Linked DNA regions of Homo sapiens: region 2 is linked to region 1. The links come from fine-mapping of genetic effects on plasma protein levels. Region 1 holds a variant in brackets. A gene starts in the other region. All regions are shown on their reverse strands.

Region 1 (16,495 bases):
CCAAGAGCCGAAGCCCCTGCCCGGAGCGGCGGGCTCGCGGGCCCTGGGTGCGACCCCACCCAGCCTCCCCGGGATTCAGGCAGCCGGGCCCCGCGCCCGCGCTCACCCAGGTGCTCCCCGCGGCCTGCGCGCCCGCGCGCTTCTCCGGCATGGCTCCCGCCTCGGGCTCCGACGCCGCCTTCTCCTCCAGCTCCGGCGGCGGCTCCACGCTCATGCCGCGGCCATGCCCGCGCCAGCCCGGGGCGCTCCGGGACGACGGCGACGCCGCGGAGGCGGCGGCGGTGCCCGCGCCCTCATGGGCTCTGCGGCCCGCGGCGGCCTGCGGGTCAGGCGGCGGCGCCAGCGGCGGCGCCGAGGGCTGAGGAGGCGGCGGAGGCTGAAGCTGCGGATCAGGCTAGCAGAAGACCGCAGCTCCAGGAACCGACCACTTATCAAACCGCACCGACCCCGACTCTCGCAGTTACCGGCGGCGTCAGGGGCGGGCTGCACGGTTAAGAGACTGTGCCCCGCCCCGCCTCCCCACAGGCCGGCGCCGGGCAGGAGGCCCCGCCCCGCACCTCAGCTCCCGCCTCGAGAACGAGTCCCGCGCCTGAGTAGCCTCCAGCGACGCCACGCCCACTTCAGAGACCCCTCCTTTACCTCGCGACTGGCCCCTTGGCATCAGGACTTCGCGGCGCGCGGGAAGTACGTCATTTCGAGAGCCCGTACGACTGATTTCTTTTTCCGGAGAATCTGGACTGAGGCTAGCAAGCGGGGAGGGGCAAACTCGTGGGGGTTTGGTAGTGATTGCAGTTCAGTTTTGGTCTTGGTTTGCGCCAACCCGCCAACCTCTCAAGTTTTTCTATGGTTCTCTAAGAAGAAAATAATATACTAGCAATGTTTCCCAAACGTACTTGAACACAACACTTTTTATTCTTGACACATGATTAATATCTTGTAGAATGTGTAGGACGCAGTTGGAAAAGCCTGGCTTATGTTTATTTATTTTGAAAGATATGCACCTAATACTGAAATATAAAAAAGCCTACAGGCCTGGAGCGGTGGCCCACACCTATAATCCCAGCACTTTGGGAGGCCGAGGCGGCTGGTTCACCTGAGGTCAGGAGTTAGAGACCAGCCTGGCCAACGCGGTGAAACCCTGTCTCTACTAAAAAACAAAAACAAAAACAAAAAACACCAAAAAAATTAGCCGGGCTTGGTGGCGCACGCCTGTAATCCAAGCTACTCGGGAGGCTGAGGCAGGAGAATAGCTTGAACCTGGGAGCCGGAGGTTGCAGTGAGCCGAGATAGCGTCACTGCACTCCATCCTGGGCGACAGAGTGAGGCTCTGTCTCACAAAAAAAAAAAAAAAATCTTTTTACAAACATCAATAGAAAAAAGAATAAAATTATTTCTATTAACAGGATTAGTAATTTTAATTGAATTAAAGTCATTTCATTTAAGAATTTTTTCAGGTTGGGCGTGGTGGCTCACGCCTGTAATCCCAGGACTTTGGCAGGCAGAGGTGGGCGGATCGCCTGAGGTCAAGAGTTCCAGACCAGCCTGGCCAACATGGTGAAACCCCGTCTCTACTAAAAATACAGAAGTTAGCCGGGCATGGTGGCGGATGCCTGTAATCCCAGCTACTTGGGAGGCTGAGGGAAGAGAATCGCTTGAACCCAGGAGGCGGAGGTTGCAGTGAGCCGAGATGGTGCACTGCACTCCACCCTGGGTGACAAGAGTGAGACTTCGTCTCCAAAAAAAAAAAAAAAAAAAGCCTCTTTTTCGCTTCCCACCCACTACCCCCAAACACACACACACACACTTTGCAGAAGTCTTTACTTTTATTTATTTATTTATTTATTTGAGACAGAGTCTTGCTCTGTCACCCAGGCTACAGTCACCCAGCCTAGATCAGTGGCGTGATCTAGGTTCACTGCAACCTCTACCTCCCGCATTCAAGCGACTCTCCTGCCTGAGCCTGCCGAGTAGCTGGGATTACAGGTGCGCGTCACCATGCCCGGCTAATTTTTGTATTTTTAGTAGAGACGGGGTTTCACCATGTTGGCTGGGCTGGTCTTGAACTACTGACTTCAAGTGATCCGCCCCCCTCGGCTCACCGAGCCGGCCTGGTCTTTTTTCTTTTTTTTTTTTTTTTTTTGAGACGAAATTTCGCTTTTGTCGCCCAGCCTAGATCAGTGGCTCGATCTCGGCTCACTGCAACCTGTGCCTCCTGGGTTCAAGCAATTCTCCTGCCTCAGACTCTCGAGTAGCTGGGATTACAGGTGCATGCCACGACCTGGCTATCTTCTGTATGTTTAGTAGAGACAAGTTCACCATGTTGGCCAGGCTGTTCTCGAATTCCTGATCTCAGGTGATCCACCCGCCTCGACCTCCCATAGTGCTGGGATTACAGGCGTGAGCGACTACACCCAGCCTGATTTGTCTACTTTTCTGAATGATTGTTTTAACAAATAGTTTTCAAAACACAGAGGGAATATATGTATTATGTTATGCTGTTTGAGTATTATGTTTATGCCACTTATGAGCTTGGGTATCAGTTTCTGATTCCTGTATCCATGAAACAGAAAAGTTTGTAAACTGTTTTTTTGTTTTCTTTTGAGACAGTCTTGCTCTGTTGCCCAGTCTGGAGTACAGTGGCGCGATCTCAGCTCACTGCAACCTCTGCCTCTCCGGTTCAAACGATTGTGGTGCCTCAGCCTCCCGAGTAGCTGGGACTACAGGCACCTGCCACCACACCCAGCCAATTTTTGTATTTTTAGTAGAGACAGGGTTTCACCATGTTGGCTGGGCTGGTCTCCAACTCCTGACCTCAAGTGATCCGCCTGCCTCAACATCCCAAAGTGCTGGGATTACAGGCATGAGCCACCATGCCCAGCCTGGACTGTTTTCTTAAATAGACTTACAATAAAGTTATCCTAGAGGGAATAATGGAGTTTTTTGAAGTTTATTTTCTTTATCACAAAAGCCACTAAAGTTTGCTATAATACTAGCAGTGTATATTTTTAACTACAGAATAGGCTGTGATTCTACTGAGGCAAACTTATAAATTATACCAGATAAGTATACCATTATATCTTTGATGGTTGATATTGCCATATCAGCTATATCAGAGTAACATATGCTAATACAGTTCTTTTTCCTAAGAGGAGAAATTCAAACAATTTGCTGATCTTTTTTTTTTTTTTTTTTTTGATACAGAGTCTTGCTCTGTCGCCTAGGCTGGAGTTCAGTGACGCGATCACAGCTCACTGCAGCCTTGACCTCCTGGGCTCAAGTGATCCTCCCACCTCAGCCTCCTGGGTAGCTGGGACCACAGGTGCATAAAACCATGCCTGGCTACCTTTTTAATTTTTGGTAGAGACAGTGTCTCACTGTGTTGCCCAGCCTGTTCTCCAACTCCTGGGCTCAAGCAATCTTCCTACCTCAGCCTCCCAAAGTACTGGAATTATAGGCGTGAGCCACCGTGCCTAGCCTTGCTGATTTCTATTTAATATTTTTGTTGAGATTTTTCGCTTTAAATAAATTAATCATCTGGTCTTAAAGCTGGATTTTAAGATTGGGTTAAACTTAATGCTAAAATAGGGTATCTAATAACTGAGAGTCTTTAATCCCCAAGACTATCCTCTGGTTTAATGATTCACTAGAAGAACCCCAAAAAGCTATTTTACTCATAGTTACAGTTTATTATAGTGAAAGGATACAGATGAAAATAGCAAAGGTAAGAGGCAGCAGAGTCCACGAGAGACCACGCACAAGCTTCCAGTTGTCCTTTCTGAGTAGAGTCTATGGGCAGCACCACTAATTCTCCCAGCAATGATATGGATCTGGGTGCTGTGCTCTCTCTCTCTCTACTTGTGTGTGTGTGTGTGTGTGTGTGTGTGTGTGTGTGTGTGTGTGTTAACAATACATGTAGTTTCAGAATTTCTAACTCTGTGGAAGCAAGTTTTCCAACTACAGTGTTTATGTACGGTTCTTTTTGTTTTTATCCTGAAAGTAGCCAGTCAAAACAGTTTTCCAAATCAATTCAATTTCTTTCTTATTTACTCAAATCAATTCTTTTTTGATTGAGTAATCAATCAAACTTTTATTTATTTACTCAATTTATTTTTTCCCCACTCACTTTGGTGAGGTTATGCCATACCTTTGTAATATAATTAAGTTCATTTGTCGTGCTGGCCATTCTATCCTAAGATCCCACATTAATTTGCATAAAGTTAACTCTCTGCAGTGTATTGTTCTGTGGATTTTGACAAATGGATGGGCCAGGTGCAGTGGCTCAGGCCTGTAATCCCAGCACTTTGGGAGGTCGAGGTGGGAGGATCACTTGAGACCAGGACTTCAAGAGAAATAGGTAGTTATGCATCTACTGCCACAAGACCCTAAATATTCCCTTGTGTGGTCAATTTGTAATCAACAGAAAGGGGGAAGTGGTATTGAATTCATCACTTTTTATATATAATTTGAATCTTTTTTAAAGTATGATGCAATTGGGTTGTTCAATAATGTCTGTGAGTCTCCTTGTACTGGCAGTTGTCTGCTGGGAAGGAAATCCAGAGCTGGCACCTGCATGGCCCAGATCCAAGCCAAGGTGTATAAAGCAATACCTTCACATGGTATCTTTGTTGCTGTTTCTCCACCCGTCTACTGTTCCCTGTGTGAAAGGATAACAAACTGTCTTACGATAATTGTCTAAATGTTTAAAACACACTTCACTTAATTTTGTTTGTTCCGAGCACTACTTTGTAATTGCAATTATAACAATGTGTTAAGATAAACTTATTTTCACAGATTTTTTTTTTTTGAGATGCAATATCGCTCTCTCACCCAGGCTGGAGTGTGGGGTGCAGTGGTGCAATTTTGGCTCACTGCAACCTCTGCCTCCCAGGCTCAAGCGATTCTCCTGTCTCAGCTTCCCAAGTAGCTGGGATTACAGGTGCATACAACCACACCCAGATAATTTTTTTTTTTTTTGAGATGGATTCTTGCTCTGTCGCCCAGACTGGAGCGCAGTGGTGCAATTTTGGCTCACTGCAAGCTCCACCTCCCGGGCTCAAGCAATTCTCCTGTCTCAGCCTCCCAAGTAGCTGGATCACAGGCACATACTACCACACCTAGATAATTTTTTTGTTTTTTCAGACGGTGTCTCGCTCTGTCACTCTAGAGTATAGTGGCACAATCTCAGCTCACTGCAACCTCCGCCTCCCAGGTTCAAGCAATTCTCATGCCTCAGCCTCCTGAGTAGCTGGGATCACAGGTGCCCACCACCACGCCCGGCTAACTTTTGTATTTTTAGTAGAGATGGGGTTTCACCATGTTGGCCAGGCTGGTCTCAAACTCCTGAACTCAGGTGATCTGCTCGCCTTGGCCTCCCAAAGTGGTGGGATTACAAGGGTAAGCCACTGCGACTGGCAACAGATTTTAGTTTAAGATAATGTTCTAATGAAAACTTGTTTTCAGTATTTGCAATGCATTATCAGTCCTATCTGAGAGTATTCAGTTAGGTTGGCGCTTTTTTTTCTCTTTTTTTTTCTTTTGTTTTTAATGGAGAACTATCCTTACTGAACCTCCTCAATTATTTGCCTTCCATTCAGCACTAAGCTAAAAGGCAGATGTGAATTGCCATCTGGAAAAAAAGTATATTTGGCAATTATACATACCAAGGTGATTCAGAGTCAAATGGACCGGGCAAATGTTTTATACAAAGGGTGGAATTTTAGTTAGAATGGCGATCATTAAAAAGTCAGGAAACAACAGGTGCTGGAGAGGATGTGGAGAAATAGGAACGCTTTTACACTGTTGGTAGTGTAAACTAGTTCAACCATTGTAGAAGACAGTGTGGCAATTCCTCGAGGATCTAGAACTAGAAATACCATTTGACCCAATGATCCCATTACTGGGTATATACTCAAAGGATTATAAATCATGCTACTATAAAGACACATGCACACATATGTTTATTGTGGCACTATTCACAATACCAAAAACTTGGAACCAACCCAAATGTCCATCAATGATATACTGGATTAAGAGAATGTGGCACATATACACCATGGAATATTATGCAGCCATAAAAAAGGATGAGTTCATGTCCTTTGTAGGGACATGGATGAAGCTGGAAACCATCATTCTGAGCAGACTATCACAAGGACAGAAAACCTTGACACAGGGCAGGAAACATCACACATGGGGGCCTGTTGTGAGTTGGGGGGCAGGGGGAGGGATAGCATTAGGAGAAATACCTGATGTAAATGATGAGTTAATGGGTGCAGCAAACCAACATGGCACATGTATACCCATGTAACAAACCTGCACGCTGTGCTCACGTACCCTAGAACTTAAAGCATAATAATAATAATAAAAAGGTAGAATTTTACGTGACCCAGGCAAAGGGTTTATTCTACAATGTGTGTGAACCATGTAAAAAGTAGGAACGTAAGGACTTTTTTCCTTGCCCTACTTCCGTTTCACATGCTAGAAATATATACAGCATGCTGCCTGCTGTCCCTGTAGTCTTCGCAACAGAAGTGATACCATCTCTATGCCAGAAGCAGGAATTGCTGATGTAGGTCAGCCCCTCTTTTTCCTTGTCACCCTCGCATAGTCAATGATCAAATCTTGCTTATGCCCTTTCTCACCTCCTATCTCTTTCACCACTCCATCAAAGCAACTGTTGTGCCCTATTTATTTTATATGTCAGATTGTTCTATGCCTGCTTACTGCCTTAGTTCATACCCTTCCCATTTCTCAGCAGTTTGCTGTACATCTTTGGGTTCATTTCCACTTATGCATTGTACTCTTCACACAAAATTAGTCTTTCTCACCAAAAGCAATTGTAACAAAAGCAAAAATTGACAAATGGGATCTAATTAAATGTAGGAGCTTCTACATAGTTAAGAAACTGTCAACAGAGTAAACAGCCTACAAAATGGGAGAAAGTTTTTGCAAACTATGCATCTGACAAAAGTCTCACATCCAGGCTCTATTAATATAAGGAACTTAAACAAATCAACAAGAAAAAAAAGCCAACCCCATTAAAAAGTAGGCAAAGGACATGAGCAGACACTTTTCAAAAGAAAACATACATGCGGCCAATGAACATATGAAAAAAAGCTCAATATCACTTATCATTAGAGAAATGCAAATCAAAACCACAATGAGATACCATCTCACACCAGTCAGGATGGCTATTATTAAAAAGTCAAAAAATAACAGATTCTGACAAGGTTGCAGAGAGAAGGGAATGCTTTTACACTGTTGGCGGGAGTGTAAATTAGTGCAAACCATTGTGGAAAGCACTGTGACGATTACTCGAAGAGCTAAAAACAGAACTATCATTCAACGTAGCAGTCCCATCTCTGAGTATATTACCCAGAGGAATATAAATCATTCTATCATAAAGACACATGCATGTGAATGTTCACTGCAGCACTAGTCACAATAGCAAAGACATGGAATCAACCTAAATGCCCATCAATGACAGATTGGATAAAGAAAATGTGGTACATACATGCCATGGAATAGTATGCAGCCATAGAAAAGAATGAGATGATATATTTTGCTGGATCACTCATGGAGCTAAAGGCTATTATCCTTAGCAAACTAGCACAGGAACAGAAAACCAAATACCACATGTTCTCACTTATAGGTGGGAGCTAATTGATAAGAACTCAATGACACAAATAGGCGAACAACAGACAGTGGGGACTACTTGAGGGTGGAGGGTGGGGGGAGGGAGAGGATTCAAAAAAATAACTATTGGGTACTAGGCTTAGTACCTGGGCGACAAAATAATCTGTACAACAAACCCCCATGACACTAGGTTACCTATATAACAAACCTGCACATGTACCCCTGAACCTAAAAGTTTGGGGAAAAAAATGGTCTTTCTAAAATACAAATCTATCTTACTACATCACTTTCTTGCTAAAAATTCTTCAAGATATCCCGTTTTCATGAAGGAAAAGGCTCTGGTGCGTTAGCATGACATGAATGCCTCAGGCTCTGGCCTCTCCCCACCTGTCAGCCTTATCTCCTGGCATTTTTCTACACCCACATCATTGGGCTCCCATCATCTGTCAGGCTCCCTCAGTCTGAAATAGCCTCTTTCTCCTTCTCCTCCAGCCATTTATCTAATTCCTGTTTATAGGTATTCTAACTCCTGTTAAGACTCAGCTCAGGTATGGTCTCCACCAGGTTTTCCCCAAGTTTCCTTTCCGTATTGCAAAACCTTTCCTTGCACCTTCTGTACACTTTGTTTAGATTTCTGTCAACATATAGTTCTCTGAATGTTTAAAAAAAACAAAAAACAAACAAAAAAACACATAATCTTGCCGGGCACAGTGGCTCACGCCTGTAATCCCAGTACTTTGGGAGGCCAAGGTGGGTGGATCACTTGAGGTCAGGGGTTCGAGACCAGCCTGGCCAAAATGGAGAAACCTCGTCTCTACTAAAATACAAAAATTAGCTGGGCCTGGTGGTGGGTGCCTGTAATCCCAGCTACTCAGGAGGCTGAGGCAGGAGAATTGCTTGAACCCGAGAGGCAGAGGTTGCATGAGCCAAGATTGCACTATTGCACTCCAGCCAGGCGACAGAGCGAGACTCCGTCTCAAAAAACAAAAACAAACAAACAAACAAAAAACATAATCTTATCCAAAGAGATAGTGAGCACATGCCAACATTTTATTTATCTCGGTAATAAGGGAACCCATAAAGTGGGTTCAAAAGAGAATTTGAAAAACGAGGATTATTACAGTCAATGTGAACAAAATGGAAGGATGAATTAATATTGGCACATTAGATGCAGCCCTAGTTAATGTCCTATTGGGCAATTAAACTGTAGCAGTTGGGGTGATCTCATTTTTCCACCATGGAAAAGAAAACCAACTCATCAGTTTCTTAGGAGATAATTTCTAACTTTACAGGGCTGTAAAATATCTGAGCCTACCAGTAATAACATCAAAAATAAATAGTCAAAACCCTTTGAGAGTCAGAAGACCCTTGGATGGGTTTGTCAGACAATCGTCTTATAGCATGACATTGATGGAAGTGGAATCTCTTTACTTTGTTTCCACGTTTTGAGTAATTTTGCCTAGCACTATCATTGTTTACCCTGATGCTATACTTTTTAATTCACTCAACCTGGCATATACTGTGAACTTGAGAGAACTTAAGCTTTGGTGTTCAAACTGGGGTATGTATACCCCTTGTAATATGGAAAGACTTTTCAGGGGTTACGTGGCCATGGATAGCTTTTAGATGACCAATTTCCAGGCCCTCGTCCTAGGTGTGTACTCTTTCCTACAGCTAACCTGCTCCCTGAAGTGTCTCTGTTTTGCAAGTTCCTCTTTTCTTCCCAGTCCAATCACCCTTCTGCCACTTCACCAAAGCCTCCCACCCATCCCAGCCTGCTCATGAGCACACCCTGAGACCTAAACACTCCCATTTTCCATTAAGCAAAAGAGCCAAATTGGCCTCAAAAGTCTGACAAAAATATACTGAAAGCCAGTCTACAATATCCTGGAAAATACATTCTTTATCACAAACTAATGATAAATGTAAATGTCAACTTAAAAGTGTAGGGGGGGGACGTTAAACAGTTTATTAACATTTTTTTTTCCTTAGGAGACAGGGTCTCACTCTATCACCCAGGCTGGAGTACAGTGACATGATCATACTTCACTGCAGCCTCAAATTCCTGGGCTCAAGCAATCTTCCCAGCTCAGCCTCCAGAGTAACTGAGACTACAGGCGTGCACCACCATGCCCAGCTAGTTTGTTGTTGTTGTTGTTGTTGTCATTGTAGAGCCAAGGTTGGTTTCACTATGTTGCTCAGTCTGGTCTCAAACTCCTGGCCTCAAGGATTCTCCTGCCTTGGCCTCCCCAAGTGCTGGGGTTTAAGGGACGAGCCACCGCACCTGATCAACATTCTTTTAAGGATCGACAAGCACAACACTGAAGGCCACTGCATAGGAGGAAAATTCCGTACCTCCAAACTCCAGTGGAAGCCACAGCCGAGACCCTTGTCTTTTTGCTGTTGACTCGCTGAGCAATGTGGTACCTCATTTGGTTAGTTTACCTCTCCCTTCAGCCTGGTCAGCTGATCCTTTTCCACTGGTTTGATTTTAACACTTTGAGTGTTGGCTTAAACCATCCCTTTCTGTCTGTTCCCATTCCTCACTGCCTTTAGTTGGATGAGTGAGAAGGTCTTAGGGTTGATCCCATCCTGGTTCCCCTGTGGAGAGTGTTTGGGAAATGCCAGTGAATGTAGCCTGGATCACATTACTATAATTTTAAAGTTTCCTGGTCACTCTCCCTGTTACTTTTTACCCTGTGCACATTTTTTTTGTTGTATTTATCACAATTATTTGTGTACCAGACAGACTCTTTCTTTCTGGACGTTCATCTTTTTTACAGCAATACTTTTTATTGTTCATCTGTTAACCAATAGTTGAACTGAAATAAATCCAACTGGCCCACTAGACTGCAAGCATCCCCAAGACAAGTGTGTGTTTTATTTGCAATTGTACATCCAGTGTCAACACAGAGAAAGAACAGTAACACATTTATTGAGACATGACAGGCCAATAGTAAGCCCTTTAATACAGAGTCATTGAGTCATTAGGGCAAACCATGGGCATTGCCTGCATTTTAAATGCAGGGAAATAGAATTAGAGAGATTAGTTATGGCATCTGAGATCACATAGCAGTAAGTGGTGCCAGGATTCAAGTTGGGGCAGAATGACCCTGGAGTTTTTGGCCTCAAGTCAATTCTGTCTCGCAAATTGGATTTCTTGAATTATAGGGGTAATGAACAAAACAGCCTTGTGTTACTTACTTGTATTCAATAGGCTTTCAGAGGACCGGGGCCCAGGTGATCTATTGAGACCCAGAATGGGAGGTGCATACCTCCCATCTGGGGGGTGGGGAACTCAGCAGCAACTAGGAAGCTGTGGGGGCACCTTGGCCTTGCACTCAGGGCTCAAAGGGCATGGAAGCATCACAGTGAAAGCCACCATCATGAGAGAGAGGCCCAAGAATACAGATGGACTTGCACTTGAGTCCACTGGGCTTGTCCTCGTGGACAAGACGAGGTGACACTCAGGTAGGGACTAAACACCGGTATGAGCAGATGTGGATGGTGAGGAGGTGCTCGGAGGTGTGAGGCTACAGCCTCACATTCATGTGGTAGACTGTTTCAGGCTGGGGAAGCTTGGGATACTCTGGCTTCACTACAGTTGTTCAAGAAATTATGGAAGTATTGCATTGTTCTCTTAGCATACAAACTTTGTTTTCTTTATTCTTATTATAAATCTTTTACAAAAAAGATAGTGCTAAATAAAATTGTCTTATCTCTTAGGACATGTTTGCTATCGAGTTTGTGAAGTTAATATCTTCATACTTGACTCATTAGCTTGAAGTCAAATTTCAATATTATTGTAATTTCTAACAATACTCCCATTATTTTCCAGTTCCTGTGTTTAGCCATGAAAACCAATGTCACTTCGACTGAGTTACTTCATTTCTATGAGCTCATCTATTAAATAAGGCAGTTGGACAAGCTGTTTTCTACTATGCTCTCATAATCTCAAAGACAGTGACTGAGAGCCTGACTCTTTAAATGCTCAAAGTGAATTACTATTGATTTTTGCCTTTAAGACATTACTTAATGTGGTTATGACTTGTTTGATGTTAGTGAGTCTTTGATTAGAGTCCATTTCCAAGGTTAGCTTTGCTTCCATAGAAATGCAACTGCTATGCCATGACCTGAGTTAAAACCAATGGCCAAACTGTACCCTGTATGGAAGATTGGGGTTTCTTATCATCCAACTTAAGAACCACTGACCCTAGTGAAGTCCATGAAACAGAGAAGATAAACTCAGAGGAAAATACAATGTAAACTGCCAAACCAGACTGATGTACAGTCCATCAATTGATGAAGACACTTCAACCAAATAGATGTCTTGAAAAATTATAGATGATAAAGTATCGAATGGCCAGATAAATTGACAGGGATTTTATTGATTTTACAAAGGATGACATAGTTTCACTGACACTGCACTATAAGAAATATAATAGCAAAAAGATATTGCCTCCCACCTCCCCCAACCCCCGAGAACTTTCGGTAACGGAATTTCAAACTAAACATTTCCTTTTCATCTTTTCTCTTCTCTTTTCTTTCTTTTTGAAACAGAGTCTCACCCTGTCTCCTGGGCTGGAATGCAGTGGCGTGATCTTGGGTCACTGCAACCTCTGCCTCCCAGATTCAAGTGATTCTGCTGCCTCAGCCTACCAAGTAGCTAGGACTACATGTGTGCGCCACCACACTGGGCTATTTTTTGTATTTTTAGTAGAGACGGGGTTTCACCATGTTGGCCAGGCTGGTCTCGAACTCCTAACCTAAGGTGATCCACCTGCCTTGGCCTCCCAAAGTGCTGGGATTACAGGAGTGAGCCACTGTACCCAGCCAGACTAAACTTTTCTAAATGTCATGTGGAGGATGAAATTATTTGTATAAATGTTTTCATAAGTATATTATAAAGCATTTCAACACCTAGTAATCCATCACTAAAAGCATTAATTTTTGAAAATCATTGTGATATTTGGTACCATTATATAATGGAAAATAAGGTAAACGTGCAGACTGTATACAGTCCAATTCAATTACCAAATATGAGCAAAACCTATTAGATCAATTTCTGGCTTTTTTTGAAGAAACCGAATCAAGTTTATTCAATAGCACCCCATGGTCTCAATGTAACAGGAAAGGAAAGAGGATGCTAAAACCCACCTCCTTTGATAACCTCCAATTAGATGACCAACTGGCCTGATTTGCCTGGGAGTAAGGGTTATCAGGATGTCGGACATTTAGTGTTAAAACCAGGGCAGTCCGGGGCCTACTGGGACAGCTTGTCCTCTTCATCCCTCCAGGTCTTTTTAAAATGTGTGGAATATCCACATTTCTTTATCCTGGGACTTTTCTGTTTGCATGTAGGCTCTCCAGGAAGTCACAAAGCTGCACAACGGTGGGGCTGAGGAAATTAGCCAAGGAATCAGCCACGTCTCCGGGGCATCCGCCTCTTGTATTAGAGGTGTCTTCAGCTCTATCTTTGGGTGTCCAGG[C/A]TGCCACCAGGTAGCTAACACAGAACTGTCCTGGGCAACTTTTGTCTTTGGTACTCTGTGCTTTCCCTGTTGACATCCTCAGCTGCCACCTCCACAGGCCTCACATTGTATTCCCTGTGGCTCATGCCCGTGAACACTCTCTACAGGGACTTGCTTTCAGCACACTGTTAACTAATTGACAAAAATGCTAGCTATTGAAGCTCAAAGTGTGACCTCTTCTAGAAGTGCTGAGGTCTTAAAAGGTCATTCTCAGAGCTCAAAAATCTTTCAAAGACACAAAGCTAGACAGTAAAAATTGTTAGCTCTGTGAAAACCAAAGTGCAAAGCACTTAATAGCAATAGTTGTTTCTTACTGAGTACCATGTGTCAGGCACCATGCTAAATATTTCACAAACATTAATTCATACATACTACAGCAGCCCTGTGTGGTGTACTGAATCAAGCCCATTTCACAGGTAGAGATGCTGAGGCTGAGCTTGGTAATATGCCCTGCCCCATATCACAGAGCCAGAAAGATCAGAGCCTGATTTGAACCCGACTCCACGCTTATACACCTCAAAAGTCAGGCTCTTTTTTCCCCCACCATGAATAGGTTATTTTTTTCTGATATCATACACATACATACACACACATACACCATATATATATAGTTTTTGAAGACAGACAGGGTGTCGCTCCATTGCCCAGGCTGGAATACAGTGGTGCAATCATAGCTCACTGTAACCTCAAACTCCTGGGCTCCAGCAATCCTCCTGCCTCAGCCTCCCGAGTAGCTAGGACTGTAACTATGCCCAGGTAATTTTTTTTTTCCCAGAGACAGGGTCTCGCTATGTTGCCCAGGTTGGTCTTGAACTCCTGGGCTCAAGCAATCTTCCAGCCTCAGCCTCCCAGAATCCTGGGATTACAGGTCTGAGCCACCATGCTGGGCCTCACATGTTAGGTGTTTTTTGTTTTTTCGTTTTTTGTTTTGAGACGGACTTTTGCTCTTATTGCCAGGCTGGAGTATAGTGGTGCAATCTCGGCTCACTGCAACCTCCGCCTCCTGGGTTCAAGTGATTCTCCTGCCTCAGCCTCCCAAGTAGCTGGGATTACAGGCACCTGCCACCATGCCCAGCCAATTTTTTGTATATTTAGTAGAGATGGGTTTTCACCACGTTGGCCAGGCTTGTCTTGAACTCCTGACCTCAGGTGATCCACCCCTCGGCCTCCCAAAGTGCTGGGCTTACAGGCGTGAGCCACCACACCCAGCCACATGTTAGGTTTTAATGAGGTCTCTTAGTTTGCAGCTAGGATCAAGTCCTCTCTCTTACCTCTCACTGATTCAGCCACATACAATTATTTTGATCACCTGCTATGCACCTATGGTGTTCTTGGCACTAGGAATCCTGCTGTGAGTGAAGCTGAGCTCCTGCCTGTGTGGAGCCTGGGCCACATGGGTCTCCCAGATGTGCTCTGAAGTCACTGTCAAAAGTCATGGGCACTGGAGAGTTTCATGTGCCTGACGCTACGGAAGATACCAAATTCTACATTTGCCTCCAATGGGCACAAATGTCAGTTTCCATCAAGCTCCACCCTGTCCAGGTGACTCCTGTTGTGGCTCTTTTCATACCATCTCCCCTTCTCCCACAAGTGCCACCAACAGGCAAAGGTGGGGAGCTGGGTTTGGAGATGCTGGTCTGACCCTTAGGTGAAATCCTCTCCCCTGATGTTGCAGGAGAATGGGTGCTCAGATGGAGAATCAGCACTCTTCTCAGGTTTGGAAGGTGCTGTGGCTGGGGGAGTCTGCATTATGTTCTGGGCTGTGAGCTTTTCCAGAATTCCACTCCACAGGCACACGTCTGCTGTGTATGCATTTCTTGATATAAATCAGAAGTCCCTGAGTTCTCTACTCTTGAACGTCTATGTAACGTGTCTAGCACCATCTGAGGATGCTGGAAGTCGAGTCTGTTAGGAGGCCCCTGAATATGTGCTTGTCCCATTGGTGCTCCAGGAGGTTGCCTAACCCCTCATTTCTCTTTTGTTCTGTGTTTCTTGCTCTAGGCTATTACTCCATTTTCTGTAGGTCACCTCCTGCCACCTCTTCTCCAGGGTGATGCTGTTTGCAACACACAGTTCCTTGTCTTGGTTTCCTAAGCATCTTACTTCTGAAGGTGAGATACTGGCTGTAACAATTAAACTATTATTATAAGCTTGGGGATAACAGTAGGTACTTAAGAAAAGAATAAAATCAAACCTGAGCTTCAGATAAGGATCACAGGATTAATGCCTGCCTTGTACCGGACAATGGGGATAAAGACCAGTTGCCTCCACAAGTGACTCTCCTCAGGTCCCAGCCAGCTGACAACTGCATGCACTGATTATCTCTTTCTTTCCTTTTCTTTATCTGCATACAGGTTTTTCCAGGCCTTTGCTCACCCTGAAGGAGTCTCTGTTGCAAAAAATTGAGGTGAAATTCACATAATATAAAATGAGCCAATTTAAAACACACATTTCAGAGGCATTTAGTATCTTCACAAGGTTGTGACAAACATCACCTGTAGTTCTAAAATATTTTCTTCACATCAAAGGAGACCAAACCCCGTACCCATCAAGCAGTCACTCGCTGTTCCCTCCTCCCCCAGCCCCTGGTACCCACCAATCTGCTTTGTGTTTCTATGAATTTACCTATCTTGGACGTTCCATATAATTGGAACCATACCACAACATATGACCTTCAATTTCTGCCTTCTTTCACTTGTCATAATGTTTTCTGGATTCATCTACATTGTCAATGAAGTATCAATACCTCATTTCTTTTTAAAAATTGTGGTAAAATATACATAACAAAAATTTATCATTTTAACCATTGCCTTTTTTCTTTTCTTTGAGACACAGTCTCCCTCTATTGCCCAGGCTGCAGTTCAGGGGCACAATCTTGGCTCACTGCAACCTCTGCCTCCCGGGCTCAAGCGATTCTCATGCCTCAGCCTCCCGAGTAGCTGGGATTTCAGGCATGCACCACCATGCCCGGCTAATTTTTGTATTTTTAGTAGAGATGGGGTTTTACCATGTTGGCCAGGCTGGTCTCGAACTTCTGACCTCAGGTGATCCACCCACCTGGGCCTCCCAAAGTGTTCCACCCACCTGGGCCTCCCAAAGTGCTGGGATTACAGGCGTGAGCCACCGCACCTGGCCCATTTTAATCATTTCCAAGTGTACACGGTTCTGTAATATTTAAGTACATTCTCATTTTGGGACAACCGTCACCACTGTCCATCTCCAGAACTTTTTCACCTTCCCAAACTGAAACTCCAAGTCCATTATAGACTTTCCACTCCCTGTCCCCCAAATCCCTGATAACCACCATTCTACTTTCTGTCTGCCCGGTTGTGAGT
Region 2 (16,495 bases), not on the chromosome of region 1:
AACGATTTTCCATCTTTTCAATGTCAGTGGTCAAACTTCTCACTTCCTTTGAATCCCCAAAAGCATATGGTATCAAACATACCAGATTTATTAGAAGTATACATTCAAGAAAATTCTTTGAATAAAAGATGAGATACACAGAATAATCTTTAAATGCTGATGTTCTAAAGATCTCAATATCCCCTTCCACAATTAGAACAGGATTGTGTCTCATTAAAAAAAAAATAGAATATTTGGGTAGACAGATAAGCTTAGAATGAAAATTGAAGTAAAATAAAAATTTCTTCCTAGACTCAAACCTTTAATGATTTTAATACTATAATTTTTTTACCATTGAAAAGTAGATATTTTTTCTTGTATATAATATTATGACAGGTATTTTGTACGTAAAGAAAGATTTTACTTGTCCAAAATTATACAGCTAATAAGTTTTAAAGTCAAAACTGAACCTAAAATTCAAATACCACATCCTTTAATCCATATGACTCCCTATGTTAGCTATATTATTATAATTATTAAAATAATGTTTACTATGACTTCTGCCACTATTACTACTATTACTATTTGGAAACGGCCATATAAGCAAAGCTTCATTGGCTTCATAGTTAATCCACTCCTGCAAAATAAGTTTTATCAGCAGCATTAATATATCATACTACATAAATGAAAGAAATCAGTCTTATTTATAACATATAGAAATGGCATTTTTTTCCACAGCATCTCAGCCACATTCATTTTTACCTTGAGTTTGGCTATACCATGAGAGATTAGATGGCTCTGAGATATTAAAGTTAGCAACATAATGAGATGTCAAAAAACATCACATTCATTTAAAGTGGTTAGGTGAATCTTGGAACCAAAGTCACTTTAAAATAACTTAGGCACTGAAAAGTAAATGCAGCAGTTAGAGAACTAATGTTAGCATGAAATTGTCCAAGCTGGAAAGACTCATTAGGAGAAAAGTAACAGAAGTCTCCAGAAGGAGAAATATTGAAAATCTGTATCTTAGTCACATATACCTCTATGACTGCACATTTCACATTGAATTATATTCACCCTATGGGTGTATTTCCTCCACCAGGTTTGAACTATTTATTCTCTTTTATATTCTTCCTTTGTACTGCCACTGTCCACAGTAGACCATTTATGTGAGTAAATTAATGTTGAAATTGCATTAAATTACTCACTGTGGCACTTACTAACAAGACCACGTTAAAGAATGAGAAACAAACAAACACAGTCATATATTTTTAAAACAGTTAATATGTATAATTTTCATAAAATCAATTCTGGATCACTTAACTTCAATCTCAGATAACTACTCCTTCTTACTAAGATTACTGTTATTTGAAAATGTTAAAGAATTGAATGTAAGTTTTAGGAAAATAAATAACTAAGGAAAGTAAAAATTCAAAGAACTAAAATGACTATTCATTGGGCTTCAAGGACATGTTTTATATTTTCTTTATTTTATTTGCAAACTGGGGTTATATACTTAGGATATAAAAGACTTCAGATAAAATATTAACCTTTTTAGTCACCGTCTTTTACCTCATCTCTGCTACACTTATCGCGCCATCTTTAAATATTCAGTGTTTAAAGAAAAAGTCTTAAAACTTGAATTCATTCCCCCAAACACATAAATTGCTTGTCATAATTTGTCAATTAAAGCATCAGGAGAAGGCATCTGTACAAGCAATGTAATACCAGAAATTCAGCAATATTTAAACTGCCTTCCACTCAATTGCACTATGGTAATTTTATGTTTTATCATATTCAGTTCTACTGAGGAATTTTTAGTGTATATATTCATTCTAAAACAATTTATATGACATTATTAAAATTAAGCATAAGTAAACTTTGGTTCAGATACAATGACGATTAAATACTATTACGGTTTCAAATTTGTTGTCTATTAACCTCCTTTAATATTGTAACAGAAAAACTAGAATTTATATACAAGTTGACATTTGAATTTTAAAACACAGAAAAGTAGTGCATATTTCAAGAGATATATTCTCTGCTTTATTATCAAATGCTCTAAAATCGCTACTACCTTTAAAAAGCCCATGAATTAAAGTTTACCCAAAATTTGTCAAACACAGAAATATACTCTCATCTACATTTCTTGCTGAGTTTCTGTTTGATTTAGGGCTTCCATTAAACATTTATTACTAGGAAAAAAAGAAAACCTGCCAGTCTGGGAAAAATTAAGAAGTATTATAGGGCAAATGGATGTTCCCTTACATATATGCCATGGAATAAAATCACTTAAATCCTTTTTTCTACTTCATTATAATACTCTAAAAGATTCCCAAGTTTCATAATTAAAACTGTCAAAAAAAAAACCCCTTCTGTCATTTGATGTAGCTGGTGAGTGCATACCAAGTTCATTGTGAAAAAGTTCACATCTAGCAATTAAGTTCTGTAGTTGTTGGTTAAGAGAATGCGGGTATAGCAGTTTCCACTGAGTTAATATAATTGGATCTTAAATTTCTAATCTTAAAAGACAATGTTTTATGTATAATCAGTGGCAACAAGGAAATTACATATATTTATATTCTAATATAAGGATTTGATTTGAATAGATACAAAAATAATCAAGATGTCCACAGTCTAAAATGAAGTATAAGCCATAAAAAGCTCTGATCTTCAAATTTAAGAGATGTGGGTTCTAATTCCATCTTTTGCATTACTTGCAATGTTGAACACATCACTTCACCTTTTTATACCCTTGCTTATTAGTGAAGAAACTTTGTTTATTATGAGTAGGTAAAAATATGAGCTCGCATGGCCCCTTCCAATATTAAATGGTATTTATTCTGTCACTTTTTCCTAAGGGTTCCACAATTAATCATCAATAAATCATGAGATTTGTGCTGAATTTGAATGATACGGTTATTTTAGCATGAACTCTCATTCACCAGCTCACACATTAGAATAACAGCATCACAGAAGGAGGAAGAGAGTATTAAATAGAATTATGAAGCTTAGAGTTTCAATTCTCTTATCAATGCCATAACTTTTGAAATTCTTATCATTGAAAATACAAAATTAGAAAAGAAATAGTGGTCACTAACAAGTTGTTTTAATAATTTTTGCTATATGGGAGATAATATTAAGCCAGTCTATATCTTTTAGAAAAGAATATGAAGAAGAAGGTTTTAAAATAACAAAATAAGGCAAAATACAATACCTAACAGATTAAACATGAGACTTTTCACAGTGTTTTCAGATATATTTGGGGTCAATCTGTTCCAGTGCCCAGGAATTCCTATCATATTTAATGATCATGAAACTGCCAATTAAATAAAAATGTATTTTTAGAAAACAATAAAATTCTTTTAAAAATTCCTGTTGTCACTCACCTGTAACTTCCAATAATATTACTTTTAATCATCAGGGATTTTGTCTAGTTTAGTACACTTAAAGGCTCAAGAACAATAGTATCTCAACAAATATTGCATAATTGAAAGTAAGTTCTTGCATGTAACTGAAATGGGAGAACCTAGGTGAATTAGAATAGTTGTTCTAAATTCTTGAGTATTGCCTTTATATTTCGTTTAATTTCAGAAAAAAATCCTTAATACTTCTAAGTATAACATTAATTATTTAAGAAAATAAAGATAAAACTTTATATACTTAAAAGTAAATTTCTCACAAAATCAACATCCCATTTCTCTACTATTTATATGATAAATACAAACTCCTGCAACTAATGAAATATTTGTAAAAATACATTAATAGACCTGGTTGCAGCTCCAGATACTTTATTACTATCATTATAATATCTCTCGATGAGAGCATCTCAGTATTTTTAGCCTCATGATGAATGCTTCTGCCAATATTATAACTCACAAAAGGAAGAGAATTTCAATCAACTTTTTATCACCTATATAATCAGCAACATTTCTCTTCCTAAACATATGCTACGTTTACTACTGGATAGTAATGGAAGATGAGATGTTCTCCTTTCTGGGTTGTTAGCAGCTATAAGAATCCTATGAAGAACATCTCTACGCCCTTCATAAAATGTTTAAATATATAATTATACTTTTCCAGTCAATGGTTATGAAAGAGAATTTTTGATCATTCAGATAAATGAAATATTCCTTGCCTAAAATGCAATTGCTTATTTGGATTCTGTTCAGTTTAGTCACTTTCCCTTTAATTGGCTCCATATTTTCTAGTAAAGATACTAACTGTAACAATATTTTTCATAGAAAACTCATAAAATGTATTGGCTTCTTGCTTTTTATCTAGATCTCCGCTCTATGCAAATTGAGTGTGAGAAATATTTGGAAACATGACTGGCATAAGAGGAAATAGGTGAGTCCTGTCGGATCTGTTATGAGAAGGTCATTTGTGAAAATAAATAAATAAATAAAAAGTGGCCATTGGGCAACAAGTTATTTAGATCATTATGAGTTTTTAAGAACCACTTAGAAAAAGAGAAAAAACAACTTTACACCCGTGTTTTAAAATGTATCTAATGAAACATTTTCTGAAACGTTTAAAAATGGCAGTGATCACAAGAAATTCTAGCTTAAGAAATACACAGGAAATGAATATGACTGTAATTTCTTAAGATTCTCATGAATGATAGATCTCACACTATTTTATATTAGATTAAAAATGAGATTCTTTTTTTTATTTCCATAAAACAGACAATCTTGATTTATTTTTCACAATTACTTTGTGGCCTCTCTGGAAAGTTCCCAGTTCCCTGCACTGGAGAAAAGAGAAACTACCATACTTTGAATAGCTTTGTAACACGTATGAGCTTATGTTTGAGGAGGGTATAATGTCAAAAATATAACATGCACTACTCTGGGATATAAAACTAAAGACGTGTGTTTTAATTTATGGGGATTAATAGACATAAAATTATCTACAATTAGCTTATGCAAATATTTATAATAGGCAAAACATAACTGAAGTTATACAGTGTTGTGTCAATTTCTTGGGATTCAATTCAATACTTCAAAATAATTTTGATGAAAGAAATCCATTGTAAAACCAGTTTTCTTAAAAAGCAAATTCATGTTTCCCTTTAAAAATTGCTTTTATAGCCACTGTATTAAAACACTATATTTTGTGTCATTCAATTTAAATAAAATAATTAACTAAAACACTGTTTAAGTGTCTGGAAAAAACATAAACTAATAATATTCAGTTTATTAGAACACTTCTAACAATACACATTTGAATCTCCAAAAATCATAAAACAGGATTTCTTACTTGAGTGGGTAGGGAGATGGAATATAGTTCATAATAGTTTTTAATCTTAAATCTTAAGCATTAGGAGTTTTATATACTTCATTACTTTTTAAAATGTACCAGCCTCTAATGTGGAGTTATTGATCACAAATGCTCAGAAAATAGACCTCTGCAGTGATTCTACCGCTTTGAGCTTCCGACCAGTCTCTTTCCTGCTATAAAGTGTTAAGAAGTTCATGTAACATGTTAGCACAGCCTTACAACACGGTTCTTAACATCTTGTGAGAAACATATTACTCTCTTACTTTATGCTTGGATTGTCAGAAAGAAGAAAGAGAGATAAAATCAACTCCTGGAGTCAGAATTTCAAGAAAACAAACTACATGAATGTATGAGTTTATTATTTAAAGTAAGAGAAATAAATTTCCAACGACTTGGTAAAAATTTAAAAACCCGTATTTTAAAAGAAAGTTCAAAGACAATAGGTAATCAAGATACATGAGAAAGAATGGATTCGGCAAATTACAATATTGTAAATATCTGAGCCTCATAAAATTCTGGATTAGTTTTTGACTGATGAAGGAGACACTAAACTCTGCTACAACTTTGTTTTAGCCAATCAAACTCTCTACAGTCAAATCATCTTCACAGTATTACAGCCATCTAGAGAAGTTTTCATCATTTTTATTTTAATCTTCACAAATTATGCCTTTATTTTGTCTAGAAGTAAGACAAACTCCAAAATGCTTTGGCCAGCCTATGCGGGCCCTTTGCCCTTTACTGGCACCCTCTGGTCCATATTGCTAAGTCAGCTGTGACAGACAATCACACTCCTACCTCTACCCTGAAAGTGGTCAAGATTTTCTAAACTGTGAAGTAAAAGAGACATTTAAAGAAATACATATCAGCCAAACCTGGTACATTTCTAACAGATAGCGCTACTTAATTGGACACATAAGATTGAAGTAAATTTTTACATGCTACTAATTTTAATGATTCATCTTACATAAACATATTCTATGTATAGATTCATGATTTGATTTCAGGTTGGCTCCCTGACTAAGAATTGTTTCAGACCACCTAATACTTGAAGTACTAACTGCTCACCTTGAGAAACATTCAGGTATTTCAGCTATTCATTTAAAAATTCCACAACTGTAGCTTTTTGGATGTATTTCCAAAAGCACCTTGGTGTGCATGTGCCTCACAACTTATAGACAAAGTCCGGCATTTAGTTAATCTATGGGATTATATTTTTATATAACTTTTAAGAATCTAACTTTCTGTTCAGTTGTCTATGGAATCAGAAAGAAATTAAAATTAGCAGTTTTTCTCCTCCTTTCTCAATTTTCAGAAGTTTTAAATAATTTAAAGGATACACCAATTCCTAAGCAAAAACACTGGCACTTGTAATAATCATTTCACTGACTTTCTATTTTCAGATAGGCTTTAATATCATTCCCTCACACTCCAGCTATTTGTCAAATTCTATTCTTTATATTGAATTTCCCTTTTTATAACTTTAACTCTGATTTTTTTTGCCTTTTTCCCTTTAATGGACTTAGATGATCTTTTTATGTAATATCTTTAATTTGTTATCATTAGTTTTATATGACATATTCTTACTCATACCTCTTTTCGATTAGAGTCAGAGTAAACTTATGCCTGTTAAGTTTAAGACTCAGCATACTAGTCCCCACTTAACTTAGAATAATTTGAGCATGAAATAGGAGAATATGCAAGCAACCATGAGAATTGCTCAAAATTGACTACAGGCATTTTCAAAAACAGTTAATGACCTAATCATTATTTTTTAAAATACTGAGAGTCACAATATTAATCATAATGAACTCCTTTAAGCTCCCTGTAATGGTCATAAGTACTTCTGTAATTCTGTTGCAATTCAACAGTAATCGATGATATCTGCATTAATTTTTAAATTTGACTATTTGTCTATAATTTTAAATGCTAGTATTCTAATGAACATCTACTTCTTTCATCCTTATTTCCACAGTCGTAATTGAGAATCAAAGTAGAAGTATTGACCCTCTAAATGATTTTCTCTTTTAAATTAAGAAACAAATGAATGAAATGTAGGTAAGGCATTGAACATACAACAGTTTAAAAGTTTTTTGCTTCTCACCTGCATTTAAATTACCACATGAAATTGTATTTTTCTTGGGAGAACAGTTCTAAGATTTAAAAGTAATATAATTCTAAAATATTTAGTGGATTCTGGTTCTTTCGCAAATAAATATAGTTGAAACAACTTATTGTTCAGGTCATCAGAGTAATTCTCAGGTTTGTGTATGTGCAAATTGATATTCTCTTCCGTATATCTCCCTACAAAACATGGTAAGGATGTCTGAACATAATTTTTTAATCTATCACAATCCTATACAACCTTTAGAAAAAAGCTCAGCATAATCCAAGATACAGTTTTTCTCAGTCTCACGAACTTTGTAGAACTCCACTTATAGAGCATCCCTACTGAATTTTAACAAGTTATTGCAATGCCAGATGCCCAATTATTTAGTCTCGGAAACTCATTGCTCAAACATAAGGCATACATTCAGTACCTGAGAACGGCATCCTATTTTCCAAACATTTAGTTTCTTTTGTAGAAACATCCTCACTTTATCCTGGCATTTATTGCCTTACAATTTGCAATTTGCGTGTAGGAATTGCTTACTCTTATTTTGGGTGGCATTAGGAGATATACAAATAGGTTATATTTACTCTTGTTTCAACTTTTTGCCATAAAATCCCAGCAGGAAATAAAGTCGTGTTTTGTTTCCTTTATTTAAAAAAGCTTCATCTTACAGTTTTTACATTCTGGCAACATGGCAAGAAAGGATGGCTTTGCAGAACAGAGTGTGTCAAAAATCCTAAGTGGCTGGGAGATGAAGTGCACAATCACAGAACGCAGTCACTGGCAAAGGAATGTCAGCCACTTACCAATAAGATGCCAGACTCCACTGTCCTTCCTCTGTGACTCTCAATTCCTGTCTCCCATCCTCCTGCCCATCAGCACAGTTCAGAGAGAGCGGTTCCTCGGGTCCTTTGCAGCCTGTGGCAGAGGCGAATTGCGGAGTTCTTAATCATTCAGAGGGAATCCTCCAGCTTGCCCTGCCTCTCGCAGCAGACGGGACCCAGGTAACGCATCCTCTCCGCCCCGAGCTTTAATGGCACTTTGGCTGCCGCCTTCTCGCAGTTCCGCTCCCCCACGCCGTAGTTGGTTATATTGGGAAGTAGGTGCGGCGCCTCCTGCGGCTGGTGTGTTTGGGGCTCGCGTGTTTTCCTCCAATGCGTCCGCGCGCCCTGCGCCCCGCGCCTCTGACTGGCTGTGTCCTCCCGGGGCGGCCCCTCGCCCCTCCCCGGCCGCCCGCGCTGTCACCGGCGCCCGCGTCCAGCGCCTCACTGCCTCTTGCTGCAAAGGTTCATTGAGCATGTCCCTGGGCTTAACGAACTGTGCGCCTCCCGGAGGGTGCTCTGTGTTTCTCCACTCGTCTCACTAGTCAACCGGCATTTTCCTTCCCTGCTAAGTACAGAGGACCTGCCCCCCTTCCCCGAGCGTTTCTGCTCTGCAACCCCTCCGTATTTAACATTCATAGATTACAAAGCAAACGTGCTGGCTGGAGTCGGCACGGGAGATCCAGGCGAGAGTCCCTTCCTCCGCTCCTGTCTTCACTCTGATTCCTGTAGTCCCCGGCTCACACCTCTGACAGCAGCAGCACAGACTGACGCGTTCACTTAGGTCGGTTTGAGAGTGGACTTTTTCACTTTGCAGAATTTTCTTAAGTCCTGAATGGGAAGCACTTCTCTTTTGTTTCTGCACTTACGCGTTTCATCTAAGGACTATCAGGCTCTGCCTGTTTATATTTCTCTTTGATTTGGGGTGTTGACTCAGTTCTAAAAAAAAGCGAAGGAATGGTCTCAGCAACCTTTTTTTCGGAATTTTTATATTACAATGGCTGTAATTGGAAAAATAACACAGGTAGTAAATCCACAGTGTGGCAGCTTTAGTGCCATTGTTCTGCCAGTCCTCCTCTCTACTTTTTTTTTTTTTTTCCTCTCAGTCTTTGAGTCGTTTTCCAATTCCCACGATTGGGCTGATGGTAATTGGGTATTTGTTAAATAAATTATATAACATTTCCTTTGCAATATATTTCCATAGAGAATGTGGTTTGCACCTGTATTTAATGGAAAGGAAATCCCACGTACTGCTTTCTATCTCTGTGTCTGTATAAGAAACTGCATGGGAGTCTAGGGTCGCACCCCGTGTCCGCTGGTGTCCGTTTTTCATGTGTGTTTGAGAGCAGCCTGACCCTGGACTGACGCTGATTCTTCTGCTCACTGAATCCCCCGATGGGGTCTGACTGGCTCTAATTGGCAAGGAGAGTACAGTGCCAGGCAGCCTGTAGCTGGAAGCCGTCTACCACTAGCCCTGTGTTCTTTCTCTTGCAGTTTTTCTGGTAATTAAAATTAGTCTTTTCCTGTTTCTTGGCTGCTTCTCATTCATCCAATGATGTACAAACACCCAGTCTCTGCTTTTAATCGCTATCCTCAGGATCTAGGCTGATTGCTTGTTCTGTAGCAAAGACAAATTTGTGTGCATTTAATACTTCTCCACTCTTCCATACTTTTTATATTCGTGTTCCTGCTTTCCAGTAACTAGGTTATCTTCTTTATGTGTTAACTGAGGGATCGTTGTGGAGATTCCCCTTCTGTGGCTTTTTCTCTGCCCCACTGGCTCTTCTCCTCTGTCAGGCTGTCGGTTCACAGAGAGAACTACCAGGACTTTTATAACCACATTAAATACATCACAAAATAAATTCAAAGTGTAGGAGCTCTAACGCATTCTTTTTATTGTTCGATGAGGTTTTTGCCTTTAAAAGTGTATAATTGAGCACATGCAGCCTGAAAGAGGGATCGGGAGTGTAGAAAGCTTTCTGAAAGTTCTCTTCCCTTCTTAGAACACCATTCTATATTACCCATGATCCGATAATTTGGGCATTTTGAGTCATTATGTCACATAATTTCTTTCAACTAGCTTTGCCCTAGAAAGGATGTAAGTTGGCTTATAAAAATCTATTCAGTTTAAAAAAATGAATAAAAAATGTAGGTCAGTGAGATCAAGACAAACGGTAAAGTGATAGGAGGAGAGATAAGATGAAGCCAGAAATGAGGTTTATAGAGAAAACTGCATTGATGTTTTTGTTACAAATGGTGCTAGGTCTGCCATTAACTTTGTTAGCAGCCAATGTAAAGAAGGAAATGCTATCGGTCACATGATTCATGGTGCCCTCCTACCATTAACATGAACAAGAAAATTTACCTTTTACATGATGTAAATGGACTAAATATTTCTCCTTTCTTAAGCAAGAACTAAATAAAAGCTTTTAATGTTTCTACTTTTTATAAAGAGAGCAATATTATCACAAGACTATGGTGTGAATATATTTTTGAAACAAGTAGATAATGTAATAGCACTTTTCCTTGCGAAGTTATCTGATGCTTTAGAGGGAGAGAAAGGAAACGTTGAATCTGTTTAATTAAAAATAGTAAGGTCTATTTCTGTCAGTTCAAATTTAAAATGTTGACTTCAATCATTATTTGGGGGTGACTAGGTTACCTGGCTACACTTCATTCAGGACCCAGAAAGAGTGACTATATTTATTCTCATGTCTTTTATGACTTTTAATGTTCTAATTTGTAATAATATACAATTATATATTCCCTATTAATATCTATATATGTAACAGACAAACTGTTAGTCTATCTGACTCATCTTTCTTTAGAATTTTGCTGTTATGGAGTTAACTTATGTACTGTATATTTTTACAATTTTCTGCTTGGAGAGTAAGGGCTCTATAGATCAGGTACACTTCTGTATCCTTTTATATCCACAGTGTTCAGGTTTAAGCAGGTCAATGTCTGGAATTAGAGAAACAACAGTGCTTAAAATAAGAAACAAACAAACAAAACTCCTTGTTAGAGTTCCACTAAAAAGAAACAAACTACCTTGTGTTTTCCAAGTAAACATCAAATCTTTTCACATACCATGACCAAGATTTTCTACTATTGACATGTGAGAATGGGATTTTAAGTTATAGTTGTTTTGATGTAAGATTTGTCTTTAAAAGATATAAAAGTATGTATGCCCCATTATTAAATTCCAATGCTGTTTTCTTAATAAAATGGCATTATTAAAAGATCACTGGTTTTCTCTGTTTGATGCTAATGACATTTTTGAATTAACCAGCTCATCCTGTACCCTGGTAAAATATCATTTGTACATTAAGTTAATTAAAACATTGTTTGTAAGTGGGGTAAGTGGTTCAGTAGGTCACTTTCTCTATGCTATGGTTATGACACCTCAACCTAGCTGTCATGTTGCTGATCTGATCTTGTTGTCTAGCCATCTTTGTGTAAATGTCTTAATCTCTTTATCTCATCGTCCCCAATGGGCAAGCAAGCAGATGCAGCACATCTGTAGCAGTTGAGGTGCCTCTGAGCTTTTGTCTTATTTGTGTAACAGATTTTTATTGAAATCATGCCCTCCTTTCTCTTTCCCTTCATTTGACTCAGATAAGTTCTAGGTTCTAGTTAACAGATCATAACTATTATTATGTTCCATCAAATCATAGCATAACTGTAGGGAAGCAGACCAATGGTGAATTCATGTCTAGATCAGTCATCTTTCTTGGATCATCTGCCTTGCCTACTGGAGCTTCTTTTAGCATTTGCATTTTCTGTTTTGATGTTTTAATCCTCTATGTTAATGTGTTACCAATAATGGTGAATGGGTAAGTACTAAGATAAAAATTAAAGGAATCAAAATCTTGCATTTTCAATATATGCCAGTATTCCCTATAAGTGCAAAGTAACACATGAAGAAGCAAAAGTAAACTTTTACTTGAACTGGACAAAATATGATTTTAATTATATTTTGAGTTTCTTAGAAGATGTGTCTCAGTACTCATATCACAGCTGTTTTGTGAAAGCAGAAGTAAACATATCTTAATCAGACTTGGAAAATATACCAACTTAATTAATTTAACAGCTGCTTCAGTAAACAACGCTAAAGAACATAGTCTACTTTGTGGATGTCTTGATAACATCGGCAACCAAAACCATTAAGAAGTATGAGAGAGGAGCTCTAATTCAACTGTGGTGGTCAAGCTTTTGGTGGTCACAGTACCAACTCTTACTTACAGAAGCTGCAAATATCTAATCTCCTGTAGGTGGAATTTATGCTCACCCTTTGTGACATTTTGGTCCAACTATTTATGCAAACCATAAACATTTGCAGTTAATTAAGATTTTAGAAAATAGAAGTAAAAGTTGAAATCTTACTAATTTAAAGGTAAAGTTTACTTAGTTTTCATCCAGTAGATTCCTTTAGATATGCATTTCTATTTTTTTTTCTTGGATATATTTTAAGTCTCAGGATCTCTATCAGTTTTAATTCACTTACCTTTACAGATGTCTAATTTTTCTTTTATGTAGCATTCTCTCACCAAGACCTCTGGATATAAAGTTGTTTCCATAAAGAAACAAAACCAAAGATTCATTTGCTCATGACCAGGTAAATACCTCTGTATTGTCACTGTTTACATACCATTCTTCTCAGTATGGGATAAAAATGTCTAATGGTTTCTTAGAATTAGTCTAATTTGTTCTTTATGGTTTTAAAGAATGGCCATATGTGTGTTGCATCTTGATCATTTCCCATCTCTTCCCTGTCTCCCAAGTCTGTCAGGTACATTAACTTGACCTGTCTTTGATATTTGGCCCTCCATCAAAATAATCATCCTTCAAAAATATTGCTATCAAATATGATTCTCACCTTTATATATTAGACATTCCTGGTCTCATCTACAATATTTCCAAAATGTACTTAGAATCCAGCTTAAAACATTTTGTGTAGATCTTTAGGTGTAGAACTAGACTGTATGCCTCCTGTGGACCAGGAACTAAATTCTTCCACCCCTCAATCTGATATACTTTGTGTTTAAATTTTTATTGGCTGAGTAGCGTATATATAGGATGTCTCATTTGTTTGTCTGAGACTAACTCCAAGAGACTGCATTATAATGAAGAAGCAGAACATTTTCACCACCTATTTTTTTTTTGTTCACCAATAAGCCTGTAGTTAGCCATGTCTACCACTAGATGGCACTCATGCTCTAATTAGCAATGCCATTTAAGTTCTGACCTAAGGATGTTCCGATTTTTTAGAGAACTGAGAGGAACCCCAAATTAGCAGTTGAAGCTATAAGACAAGTTGTATAGATTATATGACATGAAGTATCTAATAAATACATTGGCAAACTGCAAAATGTCAGAATGTTTCGAAGGTACCCTTACACTCAGTGGCAAAACAGGAGCTATTAACATTTGTTGAGGGCTAAGTATACACTAGGCATGTAAGCATGCTTGAGATGAAATGTTTAATTCTGTATTAATGAGCTAATGAAACACAAATCTAAGTAAAGTGCCTCCACCATAGTGTTCTTAACTTGTTCACTAAACAAATCCCCATTTTAATTTGAATAAAAGAATTAGAACACCACAAAACAAGTTGTTTGTATCATATCAGATTAACATACCTCACATATAAAGAATCCAATTAATGGGGAATAGTTTTAGCACAAGTGCAATGCAAGGTAAAATACAAGATTAAATTTAATTGACAGTTTGTGGCATTTGCATATACTCACCAGGATATATGGTTCATTCAATTGACATTTATTAGGAACCTACTACTTTAAGAACTGCACAGAGATGAATAAATTTACATATGAGATTTTGGCAAAAATTTTTGTATACAAATGTATAATCTCACATTCTAGTGTTTTACCTGAATATCTTATTCAACTTGCTAATTGGCATATAACAACCTGCAGTTTTGGAGGAAAATACATTGTTTTCACACATGCTGTTTTTTGGTTTTTGGTTTTTTTTCAGAAGAGACTGCGTTTTGTTATATCCGAGTTATTTGCCATAATCCTTATTTATATCTAGTTTTCTGTGTTTATGAGTTAGAAGATCTTTTCCCTGTTACCATATCAGGTTCAGCCTGGCACCTGGAATTGGAACTGTGTTCTTTATACCTGAACTACCATCGACCATCACTTATGGTAGTGATAAGGGGATCAGGGCTCAGCTGGGAATTCTTTTGATGACGCAGGAGGCTCCCTCTCCAACAGCTACATTGGCTTTGCTTGCTGACAATGGTAAAAACTTGCTTTGTGTCTGTGAACTCTCAAGATATAATTTATAAGCTATGCGAGTACAGACACAACACCAATATTTTATGCTTAAATAGCACCTTTCTTGTAAGGATCCCAAGCCCACTTAATGTGACAACAAATATTAATCAATGTATTATAGCTACATGACACTTCTTTTATACACCTCTTATTATTTCTGGTTACACAAATTTTATATGAAAGAAAAAAATCATAGACTGTGAACCTACTTTCATTATAATTGGTGATGAGCTGCTCCTGGTGTTATGAAAATAAATTACTTCAGGTGCCAAAGTACAATATAGTGCAATTTTATTATCAAACCTTAATTGATTATTAATTATCAGCTCACAAAGGGCTGACGGTCTTCTTGTAGTAAAGAGAAAGGAAGCTAGGTTGGACAGTCCCAAAGAAAGGCAAAAGGCTGAGCAAGGTGGCATCATGTCGGCTCAGGTGTTTCTGCTAAACGATGCTTGCTAATGAGGTAGCAAGATACTGATAAGAATCCAGAGCAGAAGAAATCATATCAGAACCCACTGGAAGCCAATATGAGACAAGAAAAACATGGCAATGCTTACTGAAAAATGACAGCAGTGGTGTTCTGTATTCACGGCAAGCCTTAGAATAATGCCAACAACAGTGACAAGGCCGGAAGGATACAAAGTATGGTCATTTTCCAGTGGAAATCTGCACAATTAATGTGTAACAAAGTATTTGTATTAATGAAAACTGTATATTTGACCAAGAGACATTTAAAAACAGTAATAGAATAGTCGCTAAAACCAGACCTTTTGGATATAACAAGAATAATGGAAAAATCAGTTTTCTAGCCAGATAGTATTTTTTTTTTTAAGTTGGGTGATAGTTATACTAAAAGCACAGATTTCAGCACAGGGCAATATATGCATGTAACAAAACCGCACTGCACTTCTAAGTCTATACAAATAAATTTTTACAAAATAAAAAATAAAATAAGGGCAAAACTACCTGACTTACGGACTCATGGACCACTCACTGGGAAGACTGAGACTTTATAGGCCATTTCCACTCCAAGCCCTCATCCCTTATTCCAGGTCTACTTTGCCTGTTAGCTATCCCTTGTGCGTGTTCTTCTTGGCAAAGCAGGGCACAACTGTGCCAACCCTCTAAAGTGAGCAAGCTGCAGCTGTCCCACTCATCTTCTCCTCAACATCCAAAATAGAATTGCAGACCTTTCCCCCAACCTTTTCCTTCTCTTTTTTTTCTTTTTTTTTTAATTATACTTTAAGTTTTTGGGTACGTGTGCACAACGTGCAGGTTAGTTACATATGTATACATGTGCCATGTTGGTGTGCTGCACCCATTAACTCGTCATTTAACATTAGGTATATCTCCTAATGCTATCCCTCCCCGCTCCCCCCACCCCACAACAGGCCCCGGTGTGTGATGTTCCCCTTCCTGTGTCCATGTGTTCTCATTGTTCAATTCCCACCTATGAGTGAGAACATGCGGTGTTTGTTTTTTTGTCTTTGCGATAGTTTGCTGAGAATGATGGTTTCCGGCTTCATCCATGTCCCTACAAAGGACATGAACTCATCATTTTTTATGGCTGCATAGTATTCCATGGTGTATATGTGCCACATTTTCTTAAACCAGTCTATCATCGTTGGACATTTGGGTTGGTTCTAAGTCTTTGATATTGTGAATAGTGCCGCAATAAACATACGTGTGCATGTGTCTTTATAGCAGCATGATTTATAATCCTTTGGGTATATACCCAGTAATGGGATGGCTGGGTCGAATGGTATTTCTAGTTCAGTATGGCCTGAATGAGAGTTCCAACTTCTACTCTCTTAGAGTACAGTTGATCCTTGACCAACACGGGTTTGAACTCCACGGTTCTATTTATACACAGGTTTTCTTCCACCTTTGCCACCCCTGAGACACCCCTCCTCCTCCCCTTCCTCCTCTTCAGCCTACTCAACAGGAAGACAAAGCCTTTTTTTTTTCTCTCTCTCTCTGAGTGGGAGCCTCACTTT

Alleles and levels. Alleles are on the strand shown, and positions count from the first base shown. The strength of an association depends on the size of the effect and on how common the allele is.
With allele C in place of A in region 1, the plasma level of the protein whose gene starts at base 8,500 in region 2 is lower (weak association).

Evidence for each region. PIP is the posterior inclusion probability: the model's chance that the variant is causal. The UK Biobank Pharma Proteomics Project read protein levels with antibody pairs (Olink). The fine-mapping took linkage between variants from a reference panel, not from the people measured, so its PIPs are less certain.
Region 2: it holds the start of CNTN5, and the variant in region 1 is fine-mapped to the plasma level of the CNTN5 protein (UK Biobank, PIP 0.94).

Annotation. Positions count from the first base shown.
Region 1 is chr9:94,358,539-94,375,033 of GRCh38, reverse strand. LOC100132077 (a long non-coding RNA gene) reads right to left here. Exons shown (of 3, transcript NR_033937.1): 3 at 14,086-15,549. It overlaps SLC71A2 (solute carrier family 71 member 2), which reads right to left and starts at 465. Exons shown (of 12, transcript NM_032558.3): 1 at 107-465. The coding sequence starts at 214. RefSeq lists enhancers at 1-195, 196-697 and a silencer at 247-646. The variant C/A (reference allele first, on the strand shown) is at 13,122.
Region 2 is chr11:99,012,954-99,029,448 of GRCh38, reverse strand. CNTN5 (contactin 5) reads right to left here and starts at 8,500. Exons shown (of 25, transcript NM_014361.4): 1 at 8,179-8,500. RefSeq lists a silencer at 5,923-6,123.